7 separate regions of the Homo sapiens genome follow, and regions 1, 3, 4, 5, 6 and 7 are each linked to region 2. The links come from fine-mapping of genetic effects on gene expression. A gene starts in region 2. Each other region holds a variant in brackets. All regions are shown on one strand. Distances are between the middles of the regions.

Region 1 (4,276 bases), 44 kb before region 2:
ACTTATTAAAATTAAAATGCATTTTAAGGTGAAACATTATGTACCTAGAATACTGAAGGTAGCACTGACCATTGTCTTTAGCTCAGAAAGCAATGTTGAATTGGAAAAGCAAGATTTGAGAATATTCCTCTTTACTGCATTGTCATTGCACTCTAGTCCTTCTGATTTCCCTTGTTTCTCAGATGATCCCTACGCCCAATTATACAGAACAGTCTTCCTCTAGTTACTTATATCAAACACTTGCCTGCTAGCTGTGTTTGGCAGGCCAGCAGGATGAGGTAATAATCAGAAGAAAATGTTCTGGTTTATTGGCCTCATCCACGTACAACATTATTCAAAATAGTTCTCTGTGGGTGAGAACAGAGTTGCTTTGAGATCCCCTGGTCTAATGTTCTGTAGTAGTGAGGAGGAACAAAACTGTAAACTTTTTTGATCTCTTCTAGAATAATGGTAAGGTAAATGATATCTGCTTGGCCCATCCTTTCAGTAATGTTTACAGGCAGTTAGATGTATGTGAAAATGAGAGCCTTTCATTTATAAACATTTTGGCTTTACTCTTTCCAAGTCCAGCCATCTTCTTACGTACAGCCTCCATGGTCAGTACAGCAGTGTTTTCCTAAAAGCATATTTTGTGAACAATTTCTCCAGGATGATGGTAGTTTTTGTAAGACAGATGCCTAAAAGACATATGGTTTTCATAGATTTTCCGTCTAGACTAGCTTTATTTAGTGACTTTTGGTCTGAATTGGTCTAGTTAAAGTTTCTGTAGGAGCTTGTATAAAAATTTAAAATGTGGGTGTACCATTAAGGTGTAAAACAAAAGTTTGACTTCTTGTTGGCAAGAGATTAAAACGGATTGGTTGAAAATTTCCTTCATGTTAAGTAATTCTGATCATCTTATATGCCTACTCATCCATTCCACCCCTACAACACTGTCCAAAATGGAAAGGCTTACCCTAAAAATCCCATAACTGTTAAATTCATATACTCCTCACTGTTCCTGAGTAAATTCTTTGTGTTCCAGTTTATGTGTGTATGTTAGAAAGCCCTAATTCTTTCTGCAGACTCTTTACATGGCCCAGGGGACATATTATTCTTTACCCTTTTAGCACCAATTTTTACAAACACAGCATTTCTCTCATTTAAAAAAAGCGTCTGACAAGCCGCTGAGTAGAAGCGACTGAACCTTTAGGAGTTTCATAGTGCCTTCAACCAACAATGAAAATTCTGTTTTTCAAGGCGTTTCAAATTCTTGAGCCAGTGTCAAAGACTCATTTAGAAACAATATGACATGTTCAGAGGAAAAGAATTACATCTAGTCTTGCCCAGAAATCATCCTTTTGCTCCCTCTTTTGTAAGAGCTAATACTGCAGACCAGTCCCATCTTAACTGCATCAGAAAGAGGAGGCTCGTGGAAGGGAGGAAATGTGGGCCGTTCTGTCTCCACGAGTGTCATTGCTTGGCTTCCTTGGCTTCTCACGAAGCATTTAATTGGACTTAGTCACATATTTGTTCACTGACATGGCAGCCTGCAAAGCACAATGCCTCTCTGTTTTTCTCTGTTTGCTTTAAAAAATTTTGTTTTTAAAATTTGAGCTCTAAAGCATGTTAGAGCTCCTCCTGCTGGATTTAAAAAAAAATAACTGGGACGATTAATAAATGGTAATTCTTTTTCTTCATATTTACCACCTGGGCTAATAGAAGTGACAGAAGCCTATCATGTGGTGCACTTAAAACTGACCTTTTAATTCATCAGGTATGAAGGTCAGGCAGAAAGAAAATGTTGGTGCTACACAACTCATCTCTCAGTCTTCAAATTCCTCATGCT[CT/C]TTTTTTTTGCTGTTGTTAAAAAAAAAAAAAGGAAAAGGAAAGGTTATTTTTCTGTGAGTATTTCTAGTTACATAGTTACCCCAAGTCACATCCCCATGCTTGAAAGGTTCTTGCTCCCTCTCAGAAAGGGACAAAAAGTCTTTTCTATCTTCCCAAAGCAGAAATGAATTGTGCAGTCATACAGAGATTCGAAGTGTTGCCTTTTTCCTCCCTATCCTTTCTTCTTTTTCCTTCTTCCTCCTGATTTCCTCCTCCTTCTCAGAAGCGGACACTTGCCTCGCCCAGTAGCTAGTTCTCAGCACCTCCTTTCTGCCTCCTCCTTCCCCTAAATGGTGGCAGTTGGCCTCTCCCTCTCCTGGTGCCTGAAGTGGGAGTGACGAGAAGGGTCAGAAAAAGGTTTACCCCATTCACCATCAGTGGGAGTAGGTTTCTACAGCACATAAGTTTCTGGAGGTCTCTTTAGGAATAAGAGAGAAAGGAGGGGGGATAGAAGGGAGATAGGAAGAAAGGAGGGAAGGAGGGAAGGGGCAGGAAAGGAGGGAAGGAGGGAAGGGGCAGGACAGGAGAAAAGGAGGAAAGGAAGGAGCAAAGGAAAAAAAATCACTTGTAAATCTCTGTAAAACCACTTCCTTTCTCTGCATGCTTTCTCACACTGTATCCCTCTTGCCTTCTGCTTCTCTGCGTTTCTTTTAGCTCTTTCCTCCCCCAAGTTTATAATCTCAATGATATAGTACAAAGGCCAAAATACTTAAAAGTTAATCTCGGAAAGTAATGCTTTTTAGAAATCATATTTTAATACAACTAAAAATCCTTCATGTTACCTGTTTCATGACTTTATTAGGACTTGGGACAAAACAAGTCATTTGGTATTTGTGATAAAGAATAAGACAACCCTTGATTTCTCAAACTTCAGTACTTTCTGGCTTTCTTTCCTTTGCACATACCTTTCCTATTCCTGGAATGCTAGTCCCCTTAACTTTCCGTACTTTCTGGAAGTCCTTCCAACCTCCTAGCCTCCTTCCAACTCTAAGCTAGGACTCCAGATGTTTCTGAAACTCCTGAAGCAAAAATTTTAGCATAATCCTACTGTGGTCATAGTTAACTTGTCTCTCTCCATCTCAACAAGAAACTTCTTCAGGGCAGTGACTCTTTATTTCTGTATCTCTACCTCTTAACACAGTACCTAGTACATAAGTAGGGCTTACTGAGGGGATGAAGGAATATAAAATGAATTGACTTGCAAGCCTCAATCAAAATTTATTTTGAAACTAGCCCGATACTTATTTTAAAAACCAACTTAAACACACTTTCTTGTTCTATTCTATTGAAAAGCTTGCCTGAGTGAATGTTGTAAAATTCTTTTTACAGATCATAAACTGAGGAGAGTTAATGTGGGTAAATCATCCTTTAAGCTGCTTTTTTGCCACAACCACAGAAGTGGGTATATTAGGCACCATGCCTATGGGTGAAATCCAAGTCAGATATGTAGGACAATGTAAAGAAAGTGTGACAAAGCAGATTATATTACCATTTATGTCACAGGCTAATTTATACAGGATATTACCTGTTTGTATCATCAAAAAATTGTGAACTATTTTTCTCCCTATGTTCTGATTTCAAATTCCATGAATTGATTCATATTTTCCCAATGACATACATTATAAAATCATGGGTTCATTTTCACAGGGGAAAGAAATGCTGGCTCTAATACACTGCAAGAATCATATTAGAGAATTCCTTAAATCCTTTAAGTGGGCTCCAAGTTCTGTGTTCTTTCCAGCATCTACTGTAAACTATTCTTGGATAGTATTGGCTCATTCTGTTGCTACAGCCAAAAATTCCAAAAATATGCTGAATAGCACCCTATAGTATTTCTTACAGTAAATTATAAAATATTATCTTCCATGTGGACAAAATCATGACTGTTATAGCATTTTTCTGACTTTAAATAAATGCCCAAAATAAGAAGTAGAGTGCAAATACATCGCTGAAATTTAAAATACAGTGTCCCAAAATTTGTTCTCTTAGAGCAGACATTCACAAGAAGAAGTAGGGGTCCTGCATCACAGCTGCCTTCCATTTTACCTAGAAGTGTGCTCCAACCCGATTTATCTTTGGGCCCATTCACACTCATTGATCTACCGCTTGGGACACTGCCCTCAGCAGGTGCTGTGGAAAGCTGCAAGAGGCGTAGGAGTAATCTTGGTTCATAGAAGGTTTTGAATGTTGTTCAGATGATAAGATATGCATGCACGCCTCAAACTTCAAAAAAAATGATGCAAGCATTAAATGATTCAAGAGGGTCATTGAGAAGTAAAGCATTTCAATTCCTGAAAACATAGAAAATGGTTTTTGTAGATAAAACCCTTCATTTTTTATCATAAATAAGTTTAAAAAGGGTGGGCAAGTTGATATCAGATTCTAGTGGCCCTTGGAAACCTGGGAT
Region 2 (4,276 bases):
ATCAGCTTGCTTTAATAATGTAATGGATGTCCTAATTTAACTGAGGAACCTGGACAAGTCTTCCTTGATTTCAGCTTCATCCCAAGGCCCATGAATGTTTTCTTTAAAAAGCTGCAAGCGAATGAGGTAGAATGGACACAGACATGAGATAGACATCAGCAGAAGGGCAAAGAGTACGGCTCCCACAGCACTAATGGACAGTAGGCCTCCCACGGCTGAAAATGCAAAAAGCAGTGTGACCCCCACATAGCTCCGGGGAGTACATGCCTTTAGTTTCTTCTGCAACATGGGCCACAGGGCAAAAATCTGAATGGCAAATGTCACCATGATGAAGGCATGCAGGGACCGGGGAAGACGTGATGCCAAGCATACAGAAGCAAAGATGGCCATGTTCAAGGATAGTGTGCTGGATACAATGGCAGCATTGGCACCATAGTCAAAAAAGATGAGATGGCCTAACAGCATGAAGACTGACATGGCATAGATGGTGTCAGTGCTGACAGACTCTGTAAGGGTCTTCAGCACTGGTGAAAACCCATAAGTGAAAGTAATGAAGACTAGGGCACTCTTCAGGTCAGCCCACCGGGTCTGCCCACTCTTCTTCCGCCCTTCACCTCCATCAATGAGATCAAACAAAACATACCCAATCAGTGAAGAAGCCAGACCAGTCCCTAAAAGCCAATGGGGGGCCAGAAGACCCTCATCCATATACCACCAGATAACCACAAAAACACAAACACTGCACAGCTGCTGGATCACCACACTGGACTCAAATACCACAGCCCAATATTGGTATTTCCGAGCATGGATGTTTTTCCGGAGCTCTTCCAGGAATCGCCGGTCCACATAGTTATCAGGAAAGGGCTGTCGCTCATACAAGACCTTCTGCCACTTGACCTCCTTGGTGTTAGTCACAGGTTGAGCATACATTATCCTTTCATTCAAACTCAGGCCAGTTTAATCATCGCCCTCACAGAAGTCCAGGTGGTTCTTGTTCTTTATGAAGTTTTGAAATGAGACCTCCCTGGAAATTCCATGCTGTGTTGATGTTCTACCAACCTTTCCTTGTTTTCAAAGGCAGGGGCTAGGCCTACAATAGATGAATTTGTCTCTGAGGCAGGACAACACAGCCAAGTTCCTAGAAAAAGAGAGACTGTGAACCTACGAAAGTTGTGAAAGGTCAAGAGTAGTACTGAGATAAAGTCAAATCAACTCAGTTTACTAAAAGTCTGAGAAAAATGTATGTGGTAGTCACCTTATGGGACATTAAAACTGCATTTCAGATTTGAAAATTATAATTCCTTGAATAATAATAGACATCTGTTAGCTATCGCTTATTGAGTACCTACTATGTGCTAAGTGCCTTATGTATCTTCTTTCACTTAATCCTCACCACCTTGTAAGTTAGTATTAGTCCTGCTTTGGTAAAAAAGCTGAGATTCAAGATGCTTAAGTAACTTTGCCCTAAGGTAACAGAGCAGAGCCAGGATTCAAACCAAAGTCTTATCCCAAAGCCTGTGTCTCACATTGTATCTCCCTCTAAAGCAGTTCTTAACTCAGTGGTTCACATATCCCTTAGGTATATCACATTGCATGCTTATATCTGGATTTGTGTAAATTTATAGGGATAATATCCATAGTTTTTATTGGTTCTCAAAGGCATGTTATTTGTATTTTTTAAGTTACCAATCCAAAGACAATAGTAAGCTGCACCATACAGAAAGGTATGAGCTCTATAGTTTAACCAAAATCAAAGCCTCAAAGAAACTAGACTCTTCTTCCATTAGCTGAGCTTAGCATCCTTTAAAGAGCTATCAATCTACTCAAAACAAGGAAACTCTTGAGAGGATCGAAGAAGATAATCATTCCTTTTTCACAATGAGAAAACTAAGAGTCAGAAACACCACAGCCATCCGGCAAATTTGAGAAAAAAAAAATTCATATTGCCCGACTTTATTTCTTCCATGATAGACCACAACAAATATTGCTTGGCAAGCCAGACACCGTTACCCCCTCTGCAGCAGGGATCCCAGCCCGGGAATCTTAAGGCCGCCGCCGGGGTTGGAGGGTCTGCGACGCCCAAAAGGGCAGCGCCCGCCCGCAGAGTGGGGCTGGGAGGGGACGGGGTAGGGTAGGGTGACCCCAGGGTGCGCCTTCACTCTTCTGGCACCCCATTTGGCTTTTTGGGTGGGCCTCCCACTTCCGCCGCCGCCCCTCACTCAGCCTTGGGTCTGCGGGAGGCAGCAGAGGAAAAGGAGCCCCGGAAACACTGACCGTTACACGGAACCCACCTACCCGAGAGTTCCTAGGGTTGCGCAGCTGGGGGACGGCGGCACCCAGCCTTTTTCCCGCTTCGGGGCGCCGGGGCTGCGACTGTGGCCAAGCACTTCCGGGTCCGCCGCAATCTCCTTAGCGAGGGCACCCTTCCCCGGCTGGAACCATCGCGACGTGACTGCTGCCCCCTCCTGGCTGCTCGAAGGACCTCCGGTCTCCTCTCCTGGAGACTGGCCCAAACCCGAATGCTCTGAGCCTAGGAAGGCAAATCCCCAGCAATCCCCTATTGAAAGATGGGATGTGCCATCTGAAGGACTGGGTAAGGCAAGAGAGGACAAGGAAAGAGGCTGGGCCAGTAGGTGAGAGATAATGGCCGCTTTTGTTGCGCTCCTTTATTAAGTCAGGCCCTCAGCTGGGACTTCCCGTGCATCCATGCGTTCATTCCACAGATACTGATTGAATGCCTGCATGTAACAAGCCATGCTTGGGGTGCTCATGATACAGCCGTGAATGAAACACACAAAAATTGCTGCTCTCATGAAACTCTCTTTTTTGGTGCATTGACCTTTACACTGATTATATCATCTCCCCCCTCAAAGAGGACAAATCTAAGGCTCAGATAAGTTGTATTTGTCCAAAGACAGGCACCTGGGAAGTAGATGAACAGAGATCAATATCCAGTTGTCTATAGCTTCAAAGCTTGGTTTTTTTCCTCTTTACCTCCTAAAAGAAGTGAGGACAAGATTGCTAATTAAACTGAGTTCATGGAAATATTAAAGGATATATAAACAGAAGGAAGTAATAAAGAAACAAAGGGATGTAGTAAAACACAGGATACAGTGGAAATAAAAGTCAGAAAACATGACCCATTTACTAGCTCAGTGACTCAAGGCAAATCACACTACCTGAGCTTTGATTTCTTCATCAGTAAAATGGAGATGACATTATTTGCACTTGGCTACTTTATAGGATGGTTAAAGAGTTAAATATAAAAATGGTTTGTAAAGTGTTCACTATATGGCTGCTATTAGCTGACTTTGGCCATCGTAATGATAGCAATGTTTAAGTGTGATATATTCTGTAAAATGTTCTCTATTTCCCTCTAGGCTTCTGTTCCAAAATTTGACAAGATTCCTTGGCTTAGTGAGGCCAGCCTTGTAAACAAGCCATTAGTGCTCAGCCTTCCCAGAAGGTAACCTCTCAGCCACCGAGGGCAAAAGTTTTACGAAACATCTCACAGAAGATGATTTCTTCTTAAGGGATGGGGACAATTATCAGAGGGCACATTTGATCCATTGAGAAACTCAAGTCAAGTGCTTTAAAAATAGAAATAATCCGGGTTTCTCAGAAAAAAATGATCACTGAGTATAGGCCTGGCTAGAGGAGATGAGATCTCAAAATTTTTCCCTCTCCACCACTACCACTCAACAGTATAAGATAATTTTTCCCCTAGACACTGTCTCTCAAAACACTTCCATCCTCTTTCTCACCCCACATTTTCTCCACTGCTGTAGTCTGAAATTTTCACATTTTTACCATCAAAAGTCTAGAACAGTAAGTTCCCATCTTTATAGAATAGTAACTCTGTATGTAACTTTGAGGCACCCTCCTACATTCCTGTTAGTCCTACTCCTTCCAAACAAACTACTATATGACACATAAATCTATTTTTCAAAATTGCAGGAATTACATATCTAGGGAGCATTTCAACTGTCTCTTGAAATAATTGGGTTACCGTGTCCCTTCTCCATTTTTGATGAAATGGTTCCTAAGTGTAGTGATAAACCCCACTCTGGGAAGGGGACATGGACAGAAGGGTAGGTGTGAGGTAGTGTTGGGGTGAATGAGAGAAACCAGAAAGAGGGCAGAGAGAAAGAGAAAGGGCAGGCATAGAGGCCATTCCAAAGGCACACGACAGACTAAAAAGGAATGACTCCTTGGCATTCGAAACAGCTCGTTAGAAAAGCCAGACTCCCCAAAAAGAGTTTCTCCTCCTGTTGAT
Region 3 (4,276 bases), 30 kb after region 2:
GTTTTCAAAGTCTGATGATACTTTTTAGCATCATTTACCTCCCTTTGCTCAGATTGTCTACTTAAAAACTTTATAAACTTCATTTGGTTTCTCAAATATAGTGGGTTGACCAGTTAGCACAAGAAGTCTAGTTCCCTTTGAAATCTCATTTCTCTATATGAATGATTGTTAATTTGCTTGGGCTAGTGTGAACTCATTTTCCAGAATCTGAGGTCTAAACCTGGACCCAGTGTGGCCTCAGCACACTAGAAATACTCCATCTGCAGCTTCATTGAATAGTTAGCCAGCTGGTGAACTTCCTTTTCAGTTTACTCCTACAACAAAATCCTGAGAGTAATGGGACTGAGGGAAGAATTTCCTAAATTGGGAAGTCCAACTCTGACATACCCCTCCACAGGACTAACCCAATGCTATCATTTCAATTTAAACTTGCAAAGAGATTTGCATATATGCTGCGTGATTTTTCTCTGCAAGTAGTATTATTTAAAATAAATCTTCTTACTCACACCAACTTTGCTTCTATTTTTCCTGTGGTAGTCAAAGTTTTGACTCTGCCATCCCTCTTAGCCCAACCTTTCCTGCACTGAGTTGGATCGTTAGAGGTTATAACTTGAGCTTGTCAGTTATTTTACCTGCTGCATGTTTTTAAGCGTCATCCAAAAGATCTCTCATAAATGGGCCATGGTAATTTCTTCACTATGAAAATCTACTGGTAATGTTATTCCTAGTTCAAAGTAATATACATTTCAGATTAATTTTGCAAAATGGATAATCTTGGGTAGATTTTTGTCGTTGTTTTAAGGTAAAGCCTGCTTTTGCTGTTTTTTTTTTAAACAATGACTCTTATTATAATAAAAGTCCACTGACATGAGTCAGATATACTCTTTCATCTTTCCTCACCCTAACAGGGAATTTTAAAAAACCAATCAATCTACAAAATTCTTTTATTGCCAGGAATGGAGAGAAATGCTGTATTTAGGAAAAGCCGTGCTGTAGCTTTTAAAAACAAATATTTAACTCGTTGTCACATCTAGTTCCCAGTTTAACCTTGGGAAATCCTACAGGCCTCTACTGCCATGTGCTGTGTTCAGGATCACTTGTATTTTCCCTTCCCCAAACTGTCAAAGCTCAGGGGAGACCTGTCAGGAGCCATCACCTCCCAGGCCTTGTGGTAGAACACATTGGAGCTGCCCATTGTTCTGAACATGTCTAAGAATACATAACTTCAAGTAGCCTAAGTGTAACAAGTTTAATAACTGCCTTGTGTCCTCCTAAGGAAAGCCCTATTTAGAATGTCCCATTTGGGTGTAGTTACTCAGGCTGAGGGAGGTCTTAGGGATGAGAAAGGCATTACTGAACAGAGTATGAAAGAGTTTCAAGAAGAAGAGGAAGCGTGGGTCTTGTTTCTATAAATAAACCTATAAATTCTGAAGAGTCAAGGTGAAATTAGAAAATTTAGAAATGGATAAAATTTAACTAACCCTTAGAGAAAACAGGGATGATCAATTCTGTTTCAACCATCTCCCTCTCAAAAACATCTTAATTTAGCACTTTATTAAATATTATACCTGTTTAATACATGTAATTCTTGTCTCTCTAGAAAAATGTATAACTTAATGAGGACAAGAACAATATCTCATGCTGACACCATATCCCTGCAGGAGCTACCCAGAACACACTTGAGAGATATTTCAAATGAAAAAAAAAATATCTATTCCTAAGCTTACCAAGCAATATGGAAAAAAAAATGAAGTAAAATCCCTGAATTTGGGACAGCAAGGCTATAAAGTATTTAGGTATTAGGATCCTGC[C/T]TTTGAGGAGCTAATAGTTTCAATTGTAGAATAAGATATACACACAAACATGCACACAAATGAACACATGTGCAGGTCAGTATGAAATTAGGCATGAGTTATAAACAGAAACACTCAGTGATTGCAGCAAAAAGTTCTCCATATCACCAACCGTCCAGCTCTCTAGACAGGAACAAAGAGGCAGTTGTGTCAACATCTCAAGAAAGTGGTCAGAAGGGGGAAATAGCCATATTCACCCACATGGGAAGTTATCGCTTGTTCTTTGCAAAGTCTTTGGCAAGACATTTAACTGTCTGGCCAGTGAAATGCAGAATAGTGGAATCAGGTACCGGCAGATGTCTGCTGTTTCAAGGAAAACTTGTTCTTAAACCTCTTGGGATTGTCCTCCACTCAGTCTGTGTAGTGGGGATCATCCTGTAGGGATGTCACATAGCCAGAGTCAGGAAGCCCTTTCTTCCTGGATTCTCACATTGAGAAAGATGCATGAAGAGTAAGATATGCATAAAAACAACAAGAAAGACATTTGGTAACATTAATTGGCTCCAAGGCATGGAACTGTGTGGCTGGAGGACAAAAATTGGCCAAGAAAGAGGATTTTTCAGAGTACACCCATATTTGCTCTTTTAATTTTGAACCATGTGAATGTTTCACTGACTCAAAAATAGAACAAGCTGAAACAAACAAAAAAATCTTTTTAAAATTGCCAGAGGGATAATCTAGGTGATAAGCTATTAACATAACTGTTTGTCTTCCTGATACTCAAACAACATAGTCCTTGAATACTTACAAGGTTTGGACAAGTTTCCAGTTTAAAGAATAAACTTTGTCTCTGGCCCTTGGAAGTTTTGCCACTGAGAGGCTTCTACTGGCAAATAGTAACATTTATGTAGCATTTTAAACTTTTCAAAGCACTTTCACTTGTTTTTCCTTTCTGTTTGCATTAAATTTACCATTGTTCTCCCCGTTTAAAAAAAGCAACAATGTTTCATACAGTTCTATCTATTTAGCAAATGCAATTCTTTCCTGGGGCACTTTTACCAAAAAACAAAAACAAACAAACAAAAAAAAAACAAAAAAAATCTTTTTTTTTTCTTCTTAAGATCCCAGGTTATTTGGGCAGTATGACATGGACCCAGTCATTCTCTCTGGATCCACCCCAGTGCCACTCAAATTACAGCACCTAGAGAGTAGAATCTAAAATTCTACTAATGCCCTGGCCAAATGTGGCTATGAGAATCTTAACCTCTCTTGTTCTGGATTTCCTACTGCCTGAAAAACAGACTATTATGGCTTTAGTCTTCCTAGCAGCTAAGTCACATTCATTCTTTCACATTGACTTGCTACCAACTAAAGACTTTTTGTCCTTCTAGTGAGAATTACTGTTCTGACAGCTTTCTTCAGGCTGCTAAATTTTTTTACACCTATATGCATGCCCCTATATTATTTCTTATTAGGGTTTATTCCTGCTAGCTTCCAGCCAGTTACCATCTTTCTGAATCTAGATTCCATCATTGACTAGTCCTCCCAGATTTGACAATCTCGTCTTCTTCTTCTAGGTATTTGACACAAGTGTTGAAAGGAACAGAGCCAGGAACCAGACCCCATAGAATAAATTTAGAACTGTCTCTTTAGATCAAGGATTCCCAGGGGGCTCTTCTTTATATTTTATCGTAAAAACATTCAAATATACACAGAAGTAGAAATAACAGCACAAAAACACCTATATCTCCTCCCTCTGGAGTCCACAATTGTCAATATTTTTGCCACATTTCCTTCACCTATATATTGTTTTGCCAAACCATTTTAAAATAGATATCATGACATTATACCACTATATAGTTCAACTTGCAGTCCTTCAACGCATAACATCATTATCTCACCTAACAAAATATGAATAATTCCTCATTGTTATATTCACTTAGTCTATATTCAAATTCCCCATTTGTCCTCAACATGACAATTACGGCAGGTTTGTTCAAAGCCAAGTTACATCAAGGGTGACATATTGCATTTTTCCTCCTTTCATCTAGAACTCCACCTCAACTTCCTTTTTCATTACATTGATCTGTTGATCTATTGAAGAGACAAAGATAATTGTTTTGTAGAAGCCAAAGACCTCTTTAAATAATATGGCTCTTCATGTTGTTCATTACAAATGCTGCTATCAAATAAAGGTCATTTATTAAATAATGTTAATTTTCCTTTTTAATAACAAATTTGTATGTAACTACCAATTAGAGATCCTAGTAAACATGAAATAGCACTCTTATCACTTTGGGTTGACATGATCACAAGGATAAACTCAGAATTATGATCCTTTATAATGGTATAACATTGATCAAGTTACTTAACATCTATGGGTCTTTCCTGTGTTCTGTAATGAATCTATCTCAGTAATACAGTTCTTATAAGGACTGATACAATAAGCATGCAAAGTTTCTATTTAGAATCTCTGATCATAGAAG
Region 4 (4,276 bases), 68 kb before region 2:
TGTTTTTTTGTACTTTACATCCTCCAGATTGTCAAACAGGCAACATACACACATTCAATTTCAGAAGAATGAGAGAGAGAAGTAACAAAAGAAAAAAAACTCCAGACCCAATGATTATTACTCCAAGAATATAGATCTTTGTCTAAGCAATCTTCTTCAGAATATTAGTAGTTATAGAACTCTCAGTATATTTTTATCATCTTCACAAAGTTATTTTTCTGTAAACTAAAGGTTTGCCTAAATTGAGATAAGCTCCTTTAAATTTTAATTTATTTTTTAGTTGGGTATGAGCATTTACAGTGACAGAAGAAGTTCTGGTTTTGGCAACTTTGGAAGTAGCTCCCCAACTTTGGGACATGTACGTGTTGTCTGTATGATGACTCAGCTGTGGTCTGGTGCTATTATCACATAATGTTCTATCTTTGAATATTGGAAACAAGAAATTTGCAACAGCTCAACCTAGCAAATTTCTTCTGATTTTGTTTTCATCTTTCCTTTCAACAAAAATTAACTTAAATTTCCTAAAACAGCCTTCAGGTCTTTTTTTAATCTTGATCATCTACTAAGGCTCTTGGGCCCTGGGAATGTCTGAGAAGGTGCACTCAGTAATTCATGTGTAGGAATAGTTGAAAAAGTTATCTTCAGGCCTTTCGGGAGTTCTGTAGTTGGATGTAGGTGACAGCTTTATCAACTACAGTATTCAGTGAACATCAGGGAAGCTTAAAACCCCTGATTATAGCTGCTTTTTTAACGGCTTCGTTTTTCTTCTGTACTCCAGAAAGAAATGATTCTACTCACAGAATTTTACAGTTGTGTGTGGTTTTTTTGGTTGCTTTAATGCTTTGTATTATTTTGTTTTTACTAAGAAGTTTTTACATGTAAAGCAAGTGTAATTGTATTTACATTGAACTTTGAAAGATTTTCTTCCTCATAATGTAAAGAAAAGGTAAATAAGATCAACTGCATACCTATGCTATTATTTTGCTATGTAGTTTATTATGACGGCCCATGCTGCTTTCATATTATTTGAATTTTATTGCCCCTGCTTTCTCTAGGACTTTATTAACTTTGATATAGTGCATCTATACTCATCCATGTAAATGATTTTGAAGAACAAAACAATTGACAGATTTTGCTTTACAATATCTGTGATTTTTGTTTCATACCTTTGTCCATCTTTCAATCTTTGTAAACAGACCTAGTTCTTTATTGCGTAGACCTTATAATCCCTTAATACCCTGATTCTAAACTGAATGAGCTTTAAAAGTGCCTGTTAAACAAATAGTATAAAGGATACAATAATTTAAAATTTCTTTACAGTTACAAGTTTTTAGGTGATGGAAGTAGAATTCCTAAAATATAGATTACTCTTGTGTCATTTTCCCCCTAATCTTTAAGTGTTATCTTCTTATAAATGAAACCACGGGGGTTTTTCTTGTGATTATAGTATTTCATTATTTGAGTATGTAAACATGATGATGATGGTGTTACAGAATTAACAGTAGCAGAGGAATCGCTCTGAGTCAAAAACAGCCTTCATCATGATCAATAGCACAATTGTTTTATGTCTGTAAGGCATTTCTCATAGGACTATATTTGGTCATCCTGGTAGCTTTTGGAAACACATGTTTTGTCTCACAGTATTTGTAGACCACTGTTGGTGGTGGGGTGAGCATCATCAACACTATCTTAACCCATACCCTTCCAGCCTCATCAAATTAGAAGTGAATGATTGGCAGTGGAGAGAGGTTTTCAGTGAAACCATTCTTGATAATGTAGGGCTGGAAAAATTCACAGGTACGTTACCATGGTAACAGTGTTTTCATCGTGATGACCTGATTTACTAAGAAAAAGTCTTCAAATAAGTCTATGACATGATTAAATAAGAGATTTAAGGAAAGGGAAAAGACAAAAACAAAACACCTGAAAGACATTCCAGTCAAGCCCAGTGCTTCTATAATAGACGCCCCAAGGTATGGTGAGAATTATTTCTGATTCAACACTTTCATTCCCTCACCTGTTAAAGTAGTAAACCTTTAAAAGAAAGCTTTTAAATTAAAATTTTCAGCTACTTGGGAGGCTGAGGCGGGACCATCGCTTAAAGCCAGGAATTTGAGATAAGCCTGGGAAACATAACAAAACCCCATCTC[T/TA]AAAAAAAAAAAAAAGGCAAAATTAGCTGGGCGTGGCATGTAGTTACAGCTATATGGGAGGATCCCTTGAGTTCAGGGGTTCGAGACTGCAGTGAGCTATGATCACGCCACTGCACTTCAGCCTGGATGACAGGGCAAGACTCTGTCTCTAAAAACAAAAATAATAATAGTAGTTATAAAAATATGTTTTAAATAACTTAAAACTTTATATAACAGCCTGTTTCTTAAATACCATGCAAATAATTTCGGAGAAAGTAAGTTATGGTAATTTTTATAAATGACTTCACATTTACAATGCTGGTGTTTTTATTGGTTAAATTAGATTTCTCAATAGCTATTTTTAAAAACTGCAATAGGAAGGACTGTCTATTGTATTTTTTAGAAACAAGCTGGTTTCTACAATATTATTCACGTTTTTTAAACAGCATCATTGAACCTGCACATAAAAGGTTAAATGTTTGCAGACCATTCTTTTTTGCCTCAAAGATCAGAGACAAATTACTATTTTTATTTTACATTTCCTTGATGAGGATAATGATAAACAGCTGTCATTTCAGTGCTTCAACTGCAAAGAACCTTATTGCAATCCTATAATTTAAACAAAGAAAAAATATAGTCATACACAATATACATACAGAAAAGAGCACAATGGAGAATTTGGTTAGAACTGGGGTTAGAGAAAAGGAAGTGTTGCTCTCTGCAATTACTCACGTAAAAGAAAAATTCCATTTATATGCATTTTTCCCGTTCATCTTAGACATTGGTAGAAGGGGCAGTTTACTGCTTCTTTTTTTCTAAAATGAGGAAATAAATCAAATTTGCATACTGAACTCTGTGACTCCCCATCATGTCCACTGTATTATCAGAATAGTTAAGATTTGCATGTCACTACATGTCTGCAAGTATTTCCAAAAGCTAAGAAGAATTTCAAATTGTTTTACTGATTATTTACTAAAGCCTCTCAATTTTTTTTAATGCTAAGAATTAAACCAGAGTTCTCTATTCACTCTGACACTTTGTTTTCTAATTGCATCTGGTTTCAAAAAGTGAAAGTCAGTGTCTTTTGCTTATTTTGATATGCAAAAAAGTGAAGCATGGTTACATGTTAAGAAAGCTGTAAAATGGGGAAATTTAGTGTTTCTATATGAAAATGTGGATGCTAATATAATTTTCCTGGTGTTTCATATTCCTCGAGGTGAATGTAACAAGTTATTTATTCTGCTTTTCTCCTTTAGCTCAATTATTTATTTTTTATAACTATCAGTACTTTAAGGAATTTTTCTAGAAACTCTCTTTATGTTCTGGTTTCTTAATACCTAAGGAAAAAATTGACTTAAAATAATATTTATCTAACATTTATTGAACAAATTTCAGTTCTCAGAGCTTGAATATATTCTTATATGGGTTGACAATTACGATGATACCCCTGTCCTAAGGTTGTGCTACAGATCTATATAAAGTACATAGCACAGTACCTGGAATACAATATTTGCTCAATAAATGTTCCTGGGAAGTGGTAGTAGGTTTATGCTGAAATGCCATTACCTGGTACTGCTAAACACAACGGCAAAATCTAAAATCCAAGAATGTTTTAGATCAGAGAGACAAATGGAATTGTGTTGTATTCCTAATGGAGGCTTATATTTCTTTATATAGAAGATGTTTTCTTCAGAAAGCTGTAGGTCATCATCTGCTCTCATTGATATATATCATATATATATATATATATATATATATATTTCATAATCACTTTATCATCCTCATTATCATCAAGTTGTAGTAGCTCCTAACTCCTCAACTTGGAATTTCTCTGGTCTGTGCTTTCTCTTACAAGTAGGCTTTCCTGGAGGCCCTAAATGCACTGGAGCCTCAGAAATGTCCTCATACTGTAGTCCCAAATCATGAGGTCATGCTCTCAGGACTGGGAAATGAGTTGAGCATGCATTATTTTAATGTGTTTTTTAGAACAATAGACATTTCTGAGTGACAGAAGCCTATATAAATGATTAGAACCAATTCTATCAATATTGTTGATTTTGTGGCCCATCAATATGCTTTTCACACAAGCATATTGATTCAAAGGAAAGGCTTATCATTTAATATCCAGTAAAGCTATTTAGCACAGT
Region 5 (4,276 bases), 49 kb before region 2:
CTTTTTTTTTTAACCTCATCACTCAATATTCAAGTACTTTTTTTGACCACCCTTGTTCACCAAGTATGATGGTTTCTCTTTAAAAAGACAAAACTGAATCATTCGAAAGGATTTGGGTTTTACTCCAGCTCATCAAAATGACATAAACACAATATGGAAACCAAGAAATGCTCCCTTGAAGGAGTCTCTGGTGAGCCCCTTAGTGAAGCTGATGTCCCACCCTGCAAGGGCAGTCCCAGAGTAGCATCAAGATTATTCCAGAGTGTCTCACTCATGCCCATCCCATGACTTAGGTGGCTTCCTTGACTTATGTGGCACACTTTAAGAGTTTCATTGTAATCCCACATTTTCAGTAATTTATTACAAATCGACCATGCCAAAAGATTTATTAATCCTTCTACATAGGCAATCAATGCATGCATATTCTTTTCTTTACAAAGACAAAAGCCATTTAATCCTCCTTATAATTTAGTTTAATTCTGTTTCAAATGTTTGACCTTGATGGCCTGCAGTGCTCTATCTCTTTTATGTATTTTACATATTGTTATAACTGACAATTAATATAAAGTCCCTTTCACTTAGGGATACGATCTCCTTGTTTCGGTTTTGTAGCCAGTCCCCCAAATTTTGCATGAGGACAAATTCACGATTCTTATGAGTGTGTCTTTGAATCCCTTACGTCAAGGTTTGGTGCCATGAAGGATGAAGCTGCTGAGCCCTGAAGTCGTGGGCTAAGGGTACACGGACAATTAAGCAACTTAAGTGACTAGCCTGTGTCTGATTCCCCTGCAGTCATGTACTGAAAACCTCCTGACTTACTGTCTTTTCAACAGCCCTCTAAAAGTCTGACTTCTTTTAGCAGCTGAATGTCATTTGGACAAATGAGGAACTCATCTTGTGACCTCTGATGTCAGCCAGGAGCTTTCTATTTTTCTCACCATCCTCCCCCTTTAAAAAACAAATACATAAATTTATCATTGGGCATTGTGATTTTTCATGGAACAGTTTTTATTTTTAGCAACTGGCTTTCAAAGCAAGGAAAGATGTTTTTTTAAGCATAATTACTAAGAATAGAAACAACTTTGAGGTGTTCTTTTTGATTCTTAATATTTAAGGTGTCTCATGACATTTGAAGTCTCTAAATGTCATTAATCATTTGTTGCAGGTTTAATATGAGTTGTCATGATGCTTAATATACTTTAATGAAAATAGAATTTTGGCCACATGCTGTTCATTAAAGAAAATATCCAATTTAATATAAGTCCCTCAATTAAAAATCCCATCAAAAGCCTTGTTCCAATTTCACCATGATTCTGGCTATAACACAATTATTTCATTGGAGTGAATCAATGGTTAATGTCAAAGTTTTTAATTCTTCAAGTCTTGGTTTCAATCTGGTTTAAGTGAAAGTAAAATTAGTTTGGTGGTTTCCTTCTTGAGTCTTGCAAACTTGAGTCTACCTTACACAAACATCTCCATCCTGCCACGGTTCGGATGACTGGCAGTCTGTTTAGGCGAGGCCCAGAAACAGAAAGCAAGTCTTGTGAAAGTCAGAATCTGGGAGCTTTGCAGATGCGTCAAGGT[A/G]GCCTTCAGATTGCCTCTCTGTTTTCAATGTGTCCCCTATCTCACTCTTCCAAACATCCTATGCTGTAAGAGGGTAAAAGGAAAAGGAAAATAAGAAAGGATCTACATAAGGCAAAGTACAAGTAACATAAATGCAGACAGCAGCAGTAAATATAACAATATGCTGCTGTTAGCCCAGTGGTAACTGGCATTAAGCTAACCAAACACAACTGCTTCCACATCCCATGACAAATAATAGCAAATAGCTCTGTCATTGTTCTCTTTGGGGCTCTAAATTGTTGAAGCTTCAGCCATTGCAGGGAAAGCCTTCCTGAGTTTCAGGGGACCAAGCCCTGCCCTGAGTTTCACCTGACTGATAGAGGAAAACAGCCAAGACAGGAGTCTGGCAGAGAAGCCACTGGCCAGTGAAAAATGCACAGTAGAGGATTATTATTCTTCCTGCAACCAGTCAGTAGCAAATTGTCACCAGTTGGAATCTGCTGAATATTCCTATATACAAGTTAATGTTAGCTCAAAGAAAGGGGGGTTTAAAAAAAAAAGTTTTGCCCAGTGTAAGCAGATACAGATTTGTAGATGACACACAAGCTAGTACTTCTATTTCATCACTGCACTTCGTTGTTTCCCTCACTTGTAAGAAAAGAATGATTTTTACAGGGAAACCTTCACATTCAGACAGTTCTTGTTATTTCTTGTTTTAACGACGTCAACGATTCATGGCATGACATTGCTCATAGCTCTTTCACCTCTAAATTTTATCCAAGCAACAAATTAGAAGAAAGGACTGCTGGGGAACTTCTTCCTTCTTTCTGTGAAAGATCAGAAGCAATTTTTTTTTTTTTTTTTTTGAGGCGGAGTCTCTATCACCCAGGCTGGAGTGCAGTGGCGTGGTCTCGGCTCACTGCAACCCCTGCCTCCTGGCTTCAAGCGATTCTCCTGCCTCAGCCTCCTGAGTAGCTGGGATTACAGGCGTGCACCACCACATCCAGCTAATTTTTGTATTTTGAGTAGAGATAGGGTTTCACCATGTTGCCCAGGTTGGTCTCAAACTCCTGACCTCAGGTGATCCACCCACCACAGCCTCCCAGAGTGCTGGGATTACAGCCATGAGCCACCACACCAGGCCTAGAAGCAAAATTTAAATAACGTTTACTAGAGTTGCTTTAGCCAATAAGAGCCAGGAAATTAAAAATGAAAATGTAAATGCTTCATCTTTCACTCAGAAACATGCCTTAAATGCCTACCTCCAGCAATGTAAGAAAAACATTGAGGATTTAGCTGAGAGTTTGATGGCTTTTGCTTGCCTGTCATAACTTCATTGCTGCTCAAAGGGAGAATTTTAAAACACTCGACATTGAAATCCTTTAGCTTACCATTGCCAATGTATTGTAAGTGTTGTCGGGGGGAACCCCTGAATCTAAACATATATTTACACCCTTAAGTTGCCAAATTAAATCCATCTGGCTTACCAAATGCTGTCGCCAAAAGACTGTTACACTGTTGGTGTGGCCAGTATTTTAAATGTGGGGGATGGGAGGGCAGTGTTGAAAGGCACTAGATTTGATGATAGAATTTACATGTGCATTGATGCCACATTAAGTATTTACATCAAGTTTAGATCCCATGGCAACTCTGACCAAGAAAGAATTCCTACACAAGGCAAGAAGTCTAAAGCCGCTAGGTATTTGCGCCGTCTCCTCATGGCACTTTTTGCCCTGTGACTGCTTTTCAGGCATCACAGCCACGCAATAGGCAAAACCACAAATAGCAAACACTCTAATTTCTTGAATTATTTTTTAACTATTCCCATAAGCACTAGGAAATGCCCACTCCTGTTTTCTGGTCGAAGTTATCAGCTCATGTGAATCATAGAAAGAATAAATTCTACCCAAGGACCTGAAAATATGTTAAGTCAAAATGGCAAGTAGCAAAATTCGCAGTCACTCATAATCCATAGCAAGGTAGGGTCTTCCTAACTTCAGTTGCTTAGAGACATGTAAAATTCCAAATGTTCATAAAATCAACTTTTTCTCCTATTGGGAATTAATTTAAACATTAGAAAACAGGAAAAGGTATAAGCACTCTTCTTAAATGTGCAAGTTGATATGAAATTTAGAAATAAGCCCCATTCCTTCCCTGCTTCTTTGGTAGAAGGGCTAATGGACTAACTAAGAGAGAGAATAAGCTAAAAGTCTGGATAGCCACAACTAAATACACCACCACAGGAGAATCCCTCAGCTTCTATGGTAATTTTGAAACTAAGAGAAAATAAGACAGCATGAGAAGGCATTATGCTGCTTTAAATATGACTTGGGAATGGTCTTATTTTACAATCAAATATACCACTTGCTTCCATCATGTAAATATTACCAGTATTTAGTTTCAGATTTTCATGAGGTAACATTATCTAAATTTACTGTTCGTCTGTATATTTAAATATATAACATTCATTTGCAGTATTTCATTTATCTCAAAAGATTAGTATATATCTCATCTAGAATGAGACCTCTTATGAGAATAGGAGATGAGAAAGACTTTTAAAGGCATTTCGCAGTCCAGAGAGTCTGCAATGAAATTATTCCACTCAGGAATGGGTATTTATGTAAGATACATTCTGTACCATGTGTATTTTTTTAAGTTTATATTAGCATTATTCTCAAAGCCAATTTTAAGAGTGAATGAAATTGTTCCCTTA
Region 6 (4,276 bases), 63 kb before region 2:
AAATGTTACCATCTACTGATATAAACTCCAACTATGCTAATCAGAAGTTGATAATCTGATAACGACTGACATTTTATTTTCTTCTGAGTGAATATGAGATAATCCATGGTTTGTTTTCTCTTCTTTTAGGCTGAAAATGATGAGAATGGACAAGCAGAAAACTTTTCCATGGACCCACAATTGGAGAGGCAAGTGGAGACCATTCGCAACCTCGTAGACTCCTACATGTCCATTATCAACAAATGTATCCGAGATCTAATTCCAAAAACAATAATGCACCTTATGATCAATAACGTAAGTGATTATAAACTACCTCCATTTAACTTCTAACCCATCCGAGTGTGGAAGTTGCACATATTATCTTCAGCTTCTTTGTGTATTTTCTGGATAGTTCAAATAATATTACCCAGGTTCATCATTTTCCATTAGACGTGATATGTGACTGACCAGTGAAAGAGAACTTAGGGAAGAAAACTTAAAACTTCTAGCTATAGGACTGAGGTATTCCCCATTGGCTGTCTTCTAGAAGAGTGTGAGTTTGCTCACAATAAAGCAAAACAAAAACACCATAATCCTGGGCATCATGTAAATTAATTGCAAAACCAGCAAAGAAACCAGATGCCCTGGCTCCTAGACTTTGAGACTAAAGGCAAAGGATATATTTGTTCCTATGCCCATGCGTGTGCATGCATGTGCACACACATATATAAAATATGTTAATATGATTATTTTCAGCTTCTAAAATCTATGGAATGCTATTTTAACCTGGGAAAGGGCTTCTTGCTTTATTCCCTCGGATTAAAAACTCAGTGAATTTTATTTTTCTAAGGTAAGGATGCTATAACCTCAAATCTGAAAATCCTGCTTGACTAGCCATCAATGGGTCTAAATAACCTTTTCAAGGTTATTTATAGTAGTCAGAGTATGATACTTAAATTATGTTTGATTTAGTTCTTTTGGTAGTTAACTTTTTACAGTACAAATAATACCACAAGTTATTTGAGAAATAGTCTTTTAGATAAGATAGGTTATAATGAGGTGTTTTATAGGGGGCTTTTCTGAATCTTGACAAGTGAGACACCAATAATTTTATTCCTAGTTATCTTCTAAGGACATCTTTTTATTTAATCCAATGATAAATTATGAGCATTACTTGTAAGAAATTAAAATTAGATGGCAAAGTACTAAAAAGAGCCCCAAAGTAGAATTTAGGAGAAATCTGGGTTCTAAATCTGGTTCTGCTACAGACTCTGTTGACCTAAGGTGAGTCTCTTTCATGTGTCTGTTTCCTCCATATGTAAAATACTAATTGTAGTAAGTGTATCTGACTTAGGGATTTGTTCCAGAAGATGGTACAAATGAAAGTACTGTGAAAAATATAATTGTAAGAAATTAATATGGCTGCCTATTTAAGAACTGTAAATAGCCCTTGTTCATATTTCATGGTTAATTTCAAAATTTTATTTCTAAATACGACAGTCCGTTCATTGTCCATGATCTCTGCATTCCTTGACTGTAAGCAACCCCAAGCACTCATGTGAACAATCTTATTTTTAACTAACACTATTTTCATACACGTATGTATTCAAACAAGGTTAGCTGGATGCTTTGAAGAATCAGCAACAGGTAAGCAATAAATTAGAAATGTGGGAACTATGAATTGTATTCTTTTGACCAATGGCTTTCTGTGTAACCTAAAGCAAATCATTTCGCCCCTTTGAGTTGAAGTCAGTTTCTTCTAAAACTACAGTGAGGTACCTCACAGAGCCATCAGAGATTATAATAAAAGTGGCTATAAGCCATTTAGAAAAATATAAAGTACTAAACAAATAGTCTGTGTATTTTTAAAATTACCTTCTTCATTTACTTAAATGAATTCAGGTTGTTTTGCTGTGGTATATCCAGGCACTTGCTTATTTAAACATTTTCCTGATTAAGGATCATTTATCTTTTCACTGTTTCACCGAGAGTCATTAGTGCTGCCATCAGTTCAAACGCTGCTTTGCTCTGCACTATATTAAATCATCAGCACAGGAAATAGCACTTCCTGCCTATAGCTGTGAGGAGTAGCTTGACACAAATTAGCTAAAAGGAAAAAAAAAAAAAACAAAAAACCCCTATTGCAAATCTATCCTACTTTCACCTTCTCAAGAAAAACATACACACATGCACACACATATGC[GCA/G]CACACACACACACACACACTGAAAGAAAGAAAGAAAGAAATGCAGGGGTAGTTTCCCTCACTCTTCACTGGTGTGTTTTCTTGTTTTAATGAAATGGCTAAACCTCCACCTACAGGATATTATCCTCGGAGGTAAAGTTCTGATAGTTGTCTTGAGAGAGACCTCACATAAGAGTCGTGAGAAAGGAGACTTCAATTAAGATCTGATCACCAAGGTCAAATCTTGAAGTAAAAACTAATAGGAATGTGGAGAAGGCGAAAGTATCATGTAGTGCTGAATTCTTATGAAATTGTGGCTTTGTTTGAAATTTAACTTTTTGTATCTACCAGAAGTTAGTTTTACATATCTAGAATGACTGCTTTTCTTGGGTATTATTTTATGTGCTTTTTAAACATATATAAAAAGGTATAGTTTTATATATAATACATATATTTTAAAATTATATATGTATAATTCTATATATGAAAAATATATATCTCTTTTATTAATGTAGTCATATTGTCGTGGCATCTTATTGTACAGAATGCCCAAGCCTATTTTGTTCATTCCACACGTGACCTGTTGAGTCCAAGGAAACTGAAACAGTGAACACCCAGCACTGTGCCATCTAGATGTATTGATTTTTTAACTTGATTCAAAGTGAAGAGATCTTCAAATGAAAGAACTAATAATAAAATCACAACGAGAAAACTAGTCTTTTGACTCCTAATTCTAAATTCTATTCACTTAACCCTGCTGCATCTTTAAATGAGTTTGGATCAAAAAGCTAATTGTTCCTCCAGAATCAATAAATGCCTAAAACACGGTCCTCTATTTCTTCCTGGTCTATCAAAAGCGGTGTTCTGGCCTTTCCTCTTTGAAATGGGAATGAAAAAGAATATGTTTCGGCCTTCTGAAAAAGAATATGTTTCAGCCAACATTCATAAAGTTCAGAATTTGGTGGGCAGTTTCCTTTGAAAGTTTACATTAAGTGTTCTGCCACTCAAATCTCCATATGGAATTGTTTAAGAAGTTTAAAGCCTAGCAATAAATGCCTTGCCTCAGACATACTGTAAGCCTTTGTCTATTGAAATGCAGCAGCTGTTTCATTACTTAAACATACCAGGTAACAGCAGCACAAAGAAATAGCAAGTTTATGACAGACGGTCTTTCTGGACAGGCTACAGTCAAAGCAGCAGAGTTTTGCTCAGGACTTTAAAGCTAACACACACATAACACCCCATGGTAAGCCCATTTGGATGGCCTCTTCTCTGTAGCTCACCCCACCAGAAGTTCTCCATCAAAGAATGAAGTGGATCCAGCTTTATTCTAAAAATGTGTTCGGTGTGGCAAAGTGGCACATAATTCTGTTTGAACCTGTCAGCCAACCACATGTTGGATACCCATTATTTTCCACAGCTTATAAATGAAGAAATTGAGGTTCTGAGACATTGACTTGCCCAAGATCACACAGCTGGGGGTGGCAGAGTTAAGACTGAAATCCAAGTCTTCTCACTCATAGTCTGATGTTCTCACCATTTGAACATTGGATAATGCACGTGACAGGGTTAGGAAACTCTAAGTCAGCCCTCTCCAACTAGAGGACTCCTACCCCCACAGGGTATTCATGAGTTATTTTCCCAGACAGTTAATTTTACTTGAAGATTTAATTAGGATTTGTTTGAAGGTGAGAAGCAATGTTTGAAATCTTTCTCATATTTAAGCAAACCCAGATAATACAAAAGAGAATGTAAACGTTCTTAGGAATTTTTAAAAAAACCAAATTTGAAACATAGAGCCATTTCACACTGGAGTGTGTGCTGTAGCCTGCGCCCCTGGACCCCTCTGGAGGTCCACATTTACTCTCCTTGGCCATTGGCATTTTGGTGGAAAATTAGTAACATGTGCCCTAGTTTCAAAACTTACTGTAACTTTAATGCGTATGAAGTAAAGTGTTATTTTAAATGTTCATTATTTTAGGGGAAAGTACATCTTAAATACCAGAGCTTTATCCTGGCATTTAAAGCACTGATTTGTTTCCACCAGCCAGGAATTCAGCACACTGCTCAAGAAAAAGATCACGACTAGGACTCCCTAAGTCCCACTCTCTTC
Region 7 (4,276 bases), 24 kb before region 2:
TTTACTGTATTTTCTCTAGCTGCAAATCATCTCCCTGCTGAACACAAGAAAGGCTGATGTCAAATGAAGCACAACTTGGACCCTCATTTCATTATCCATAGGTCTGATGAAATGCAAGCCAGCCTAGGGAAATGGAGAAAGATCCAGCAGACCAGATTTCATTTACCTTGGGCCCACTTCAGAACAAATCAGAAATACAGTTATACCTAGCTCTTAGACAGAGGGAAATCCTAGAAAATCCTGGGGTTGCCATGGACCAGACCTTGCCTCCTAGTTTCCCTAGGCCTGAATCCAGGCTATTACACACCAGGACTACTCACCTGGAGCAAATTCTTATTTACAAATCCTTTTTTTCTGAGATCAACCTCTGGCATTCTCTGCATTGTGATTACATTGCTCATTTGATCTCTTGACACCTTCTAATTTACCTCACTTAAAAAAAATTTAACCTGCCATTGGCTACATCAACTCCCTCTCCCCCTATGGAGATTTCACAACATTCATTGAAATCTTTGGAAATAACTGAGTTTCACAAAATCAGGGTTGAAAATCAAATATACAAGTTATAAAGGTATTTGGCTCGGGGACTAGTCCCAGTTCTCCTGAATAAGAGTGCATGGATTTATCATTCCATGGTGCAAAATAAGAAGCTTTTTGAGTGAGCTCAAATGGCTCATACCTAGAACATTGCTAGTAGCCAGGAAAAGTCCTGGGAACTGCTAACTTAGCTATGTGATGTCCCTTCATTTCCTTTGCATGTCTGCATGTTTTTGTGTGTGATTTGAATTTGACTTTTGTGAGCTATTTTTGCATGCTATTATTTGGGTTTATTTTATAATTTAAACATTGTTTTCTTCCTCTGCATCTGTGTCTTTCTTTTTGTTATTTTGTTTTGTTTTGTTTTGTTTTTACTAGGCGACCCCCTCCTGCAGTTCCAGGACGACCATCCTAACCCCCATCATTCATCTCCTTTTGTTTCCAACAACATGTCTATCCATGGTATTTAAAAGCTTTTCATTTGCACTATATGTCGTATGTACATAAAAACTTTTATTTTTCATCCATGTGTATAATAAAAACAAAGTTTATTCTATATAAAAATGAAGTGTGTTCTGTTTCTTTTTTTAAAGAAGACCTAAATTTAAAAAAGAATTTGTTTCAACTAAAACAAGGTAAGGTGAATATATTATGTGTTCCTCTAAGAAGCTTAATTCAAAAGTTCTTAAAGCATTGTGATTTAAGACGGTCTTTGGTAGAGACTAATAATCTACCTTCAAGTGAAATTTCTGTCCAATAGAAGAATAAAAAGAAAAAGAAAATTTATGGATGTCTAGAAAAAACACAGAAGACTAAATAATTCCAATCCACCTCCAGGAATCCCATTTTTACTTATTATTGCACCAAAATATTTTTTCCTATTATTGTTTTTCTAAACACTCTTAAGGGAGATAAAATGTAAGATCATAGAAGAAACTGTAGAGCAAAAACACATAAACCTCATAAATTCTATATGGCAAATGTAAGGGCGAAAAACCACATCATTCAGAATAAAAGTACAAGGCAAGGAAATGTTGCCACCTTGAGAAGAAAGACTCTTCATGATGTCAGTAAAGCACTAGAAAAATGGAGTCCATATAAGTTTGAAGGAATAGAGAACTTTTTATTCCTCTATCCTCAAATGGTAATTCTAACACTAAAATTTTAATCTATAATTTTTTAACAAGCATCCCAAAGATGTATCCAAATAAAATGTTTATTATTTAGGTAATATAGTACATTCCACCAAATATGTGATCTGAAGCCTTCCCAAAGGTTTAAGATTTAATTCAGAATTTTATTTTTTGAAAATTTATGTGGCCTAAAATAGAACTTGAAAGTAGTCCTTCTCAAATGAGATCACTTCTGAATGTGCTCCCCTTCAGCATATTAAGATGACAGAAAACTACATGACAAGAGAGTCAAAAAAATCATTCATCAGTTCTATTTACTTCACATCTGACCTAGGCAAGCCCTGGCAAAGGAGGTATTTGGAAGATGTGGGCAGGAACCCCCAGTTGTAAAAGGGAGAGTCCTCATTAGTAATGCTGTTTCTTCGGACCACAAATTTTTTTAAGGACTGAGTTCTCCACTCAAAAATGAAAAATCAGTTTCTTGGTTTAAAATGTTCATATGGCATGTTACATTATTTTAATTGTATCCCCGGTCCAGTGACTACCATTTAAAATCAGTGATAACTAAGAAAGTTCAAAGGCTCCAAACCAAGGCATCAACTGAAGCTCATGTATAGCAGGAAGGAGGTGACTTGATGTAAAATAGCACATAGCATGCAGTCTTTTGTCCTTTCCTTCCCCTCCAGTCCAGGCATTTGATTTTTAAATCAATATTCTTAGTGGATAGCATTCTTCATCCCAATAGACAAAAATGTACCTAGATGATTTCATACCACCTCCCCAAATGAAAACCGAAGTTGTCAAAGAGAAGGTTTTCTTCAATTCATTTTTTAAAAGTGTTTGGTACTTTTCCACTTTGTCTTAAACATGGACTTATTTTTATATGCAGTGTTACACAGTTTAGATGTATAAAACTTAAATTGACCTGATGAATGATGAGAAGGAAAAACTCCAGTCATAACAGAATGAAATGACAACCTTACTCAGTTTTCCTTAACAAAGAAGTGTGTTCCCTTCCTTAC[A/G]TTCTATAGGCAAGAAAAAAGAGGGCAGGGGAAAGGGATGGGGGGCAGCCTGGAGTAAAATTAAATTATGCTAAGATTTGTTAATATGTATTTAGTAAATAGTATTTCTATGTTTCATAATATACCTTTCCCCAACTCTTCTTACCTCCACCTCCACCCTGCTATGTTTAATAGACTTGAAAAATTACTCCCTTTTTCAGAGTTGATCATAACTCAGGATAGTCAGGAAGAGCCAAACTATTATGCCTTTAGTAAACATAATATTCCTTATATATTTTCATTCCTTTATTTATGCATCAAACATTTCTTGAATTCATGATAATGTCCTGGACCCTGGGAATACCAGAGAAGTAACAGAATAAAAGTAGCTTACAAAATAGCTAAATAAGCAATTACAATGTAGTGCTACAATAAGAGAAAAGTTTGGTTGTCTTTCCAGGGAGAACTGTTCTGACTTCAGTACTGAAGCAGCTATCTGAGTTTTAGTATACTGTTATCAACTTTACCCAACACATGCTAATGTTCCAGAACATTGTGATTTTGACTTCTAACAAAGAAAGGAATACTAGAACTCATTTCAGCCAATCAGAAACTGAGCTTTTCATTCTGAATGGAATTATATGATTCAAGATGTAAATCACACAGATGTTGGTAGAGAAAAAGGCATACTGGTATTGAAACTGTAAACTGGCCTGTTTACTTCGTCTCCTAACAAAAAACACTTTGGATTCAGGTTCTCCACAGCAGTCTTCCACTGGCCACAGTGAGGGGAGCTAGGTTTCCCCAGTCTCCAGCTAGAAAAACTCAGAACATCTAAAGATCTGAAAGATGGAAAAAAGAGAACTAAAGGTAGGAAAAAAATAAATGAAACTTCCAATTCTTTCCTTATGGGGTTACCCTGGTAAATGTTTGTATGCCTTGGAGGCCACATAAACATTGAGGGGTGTTTCAACAGACATCCTAGAAGTTGAAAGCCAAAAGAAGGTAAGGAAATAACAGCTGATGTTCAGTTACAGGTGAAGATAATTTTAATGGGTTTGGGGCATGATAAATTTCAATGCTCTTTATCGTATAGTTTGGAAAAAATGTTGTACTTGCCAACATCTTTTATAACTCAGCATTTAAGTATGATTTTTTTAAATCCTCAGAAAATTGATACCAGATTCTTTAGTGCAGTTCCCTGAGATTCTGAAGTAAACCTTCTCAACTGTGAATGCACTTTAAAACAATGAATCTCAGTCACAGGAAGTTAAGATTGCTGAGAAAGAAAAAAAAACTTGTATAGACTTTTATAATTACTAGGGTCTAAATCTGAATAAATCACATTGAGCTTATGACACTGTATGTTTCCTATTTAAAGGGATATACTAGCTGTCTCTATTACCATAGTACAGGTGCTCCTTGACTTATGATAGGGTTACATCTCAATAAACCACCACAAGTTGAAAATATTGTAAGTCAAAAATGCATGCAATACCCTGATGAACCCATGATAAAGTAAAAAAATCCTAAGTTGGGGAGGACGCAGAGCAAGATGGCCAAACAGAAGCCTTCACTGATTGTTCTCCATGCACGAACATCAAA

Alleles and levels. Positions count from the first base shown, and alleles are read on the strand shown. Sizes are in standard deviations (SD) of each study's normalised expression. Not every link is listed here.
As copies of GCA replace G in region 6, the expression in skeletal muscle of the gene that starts at base 2,377 in region 2 goes down (large effect, 0.79 SD a copy in FUSION).

The links. PIP is the estimated chance that this variant, and not a neighbour inherited with it, causes the effect.
Region 1: its variant is fine-mapped to the expression of PIGC in whole blood (INTERVAL, PIP above 0.99).
Region 3: its variant is fine-mapped to the expression of PIGC in whole blood (TOPMed, PIP above 0.99).
Region 4: its variant is fine-mapped to the expression of PIGC in whole blood (INTERVAL, PIP 0.99).
Region 5: its variant is fine-mapped to the expression of PIGC in whole blood (TOPMed, PIP above 0.99).
Region 6: its variant is fine-mapped to the expression of PIGC in skeletal muscle (FUSION, PIP 0.95). The same link has a PIP of 0.9 or more in subcutaneous fat.
Region 7: its variant is fine-mapped to the expression of PIGC in whole blood (INTERVAL, PIP above 0.99).

What each region holds. Positions count from the first base shown.
Region 1 is chr1:172,398,078-172,402,353 of GRCh38, forward strand. All of the region lies in intron 20 of DNM3 (dynamin 3), which reads left to right. LOC102724528 (a long non-coding RNA gene) reads right to left here. Exons shown (of 3, transcript XR_001738294.3): 2 at 1,742-1,839. Among named protein-coding and RNA genes, the nearest start is that of C1orf105, 20 kb to the right of the region's middle. The variant CT/C (reference allele first, on the strand shown) is at 1,829.
Region 2 is chr1:172,441,693-172,445,968 of GRCh38, forward strand. PIGC (phosphatidylinositol glycan anchor biosynthesis class C) reads right to left here and starts at 2,377. Exons shown (of 2, transcript NM_153747.2): 1 at 2,296-2,377; 2 at 1-1,138. The coding sequence starts at 930. The coding sequence ends at 37. It overlaps C1orf105 (chromosome 1 open reading frame 105), which reads left to right. Exons shown (of 7, transcript NM_139240.4): 2 at 3,381-3,466. RefSeq lists enhancers at 2,209-2,732, 2,456-2,765.
Region 3 is chr1:172,471,506-172,475,781 of GRCh38, forward strand. No RefSeq gene overlaps it. Among named protein-coding and RNA genes, the nearest start is that of PIGC, 30 kb to the left of the region's middle. The variant C/T (reference allele first, on the strand shown) is at 1,812.
Region 4 is chr1:172,373,693-172,377,968 of GRCh38, forward strand. The region is part of intron 17 of DNM3 (dynamin 3); the gene reads left to right. Among named protein-coding and RNA genes, the nearest start is that of C1orf105, 45 kb to the right of the region's middle. The variant T/TA (reference allele first, on the strand shown) is at 2,151.
Region 5 is chr1:172,392,764-172,397,039 of GRCh38, forward strand. The region is part of intron 20 of DNM3 (dynamin 3); the gene reads left to right. LOC102724528 (a long non-coding RNA gene) reads right to left here. Exons shown (of 3, transcript XR_001738294.3): 3 at 988-1,647. Among named protein-coding and RNA genes, the nearest start is that of C1orf105, 26 kb to the right of the region's middle. The variant A/G (reference allele first, on the strand shown) is at 1,585.
Region 6 is chr1:172,378,889-172,383,164 of GRCh38, forward strand. It overlaps DNM3 (dynamin 3), which reads left to right. Exons shown (of 21, transcript NM_015569.5): 18 at 130-294. Among named protein-coding and RNA genes, the nearest start is that of C1orf105, 40 kb to the right of the region's middle. The variant GCA/G (reference allele first, on the strand shown) is at 2,183.
Region 7 is chr1:172,417,366-172,421,641 of GRCh38, forward strand. C1orf105 (chromosome 1 open reading frame 105) reads left to right here and starts at 3,320. Exons shown (of 7, transcript NM_139240.4): 1 at 3,320-3,541. The coding sequence starts at 3,521. All of the region lies in intron 1 of LOC102724528 (a long non-coding RNA gene), which reads right to left. It also overlaps a transcript of DNM3 not described here. The variant A/G (reference allele first, on the strand shown) is at 2,693.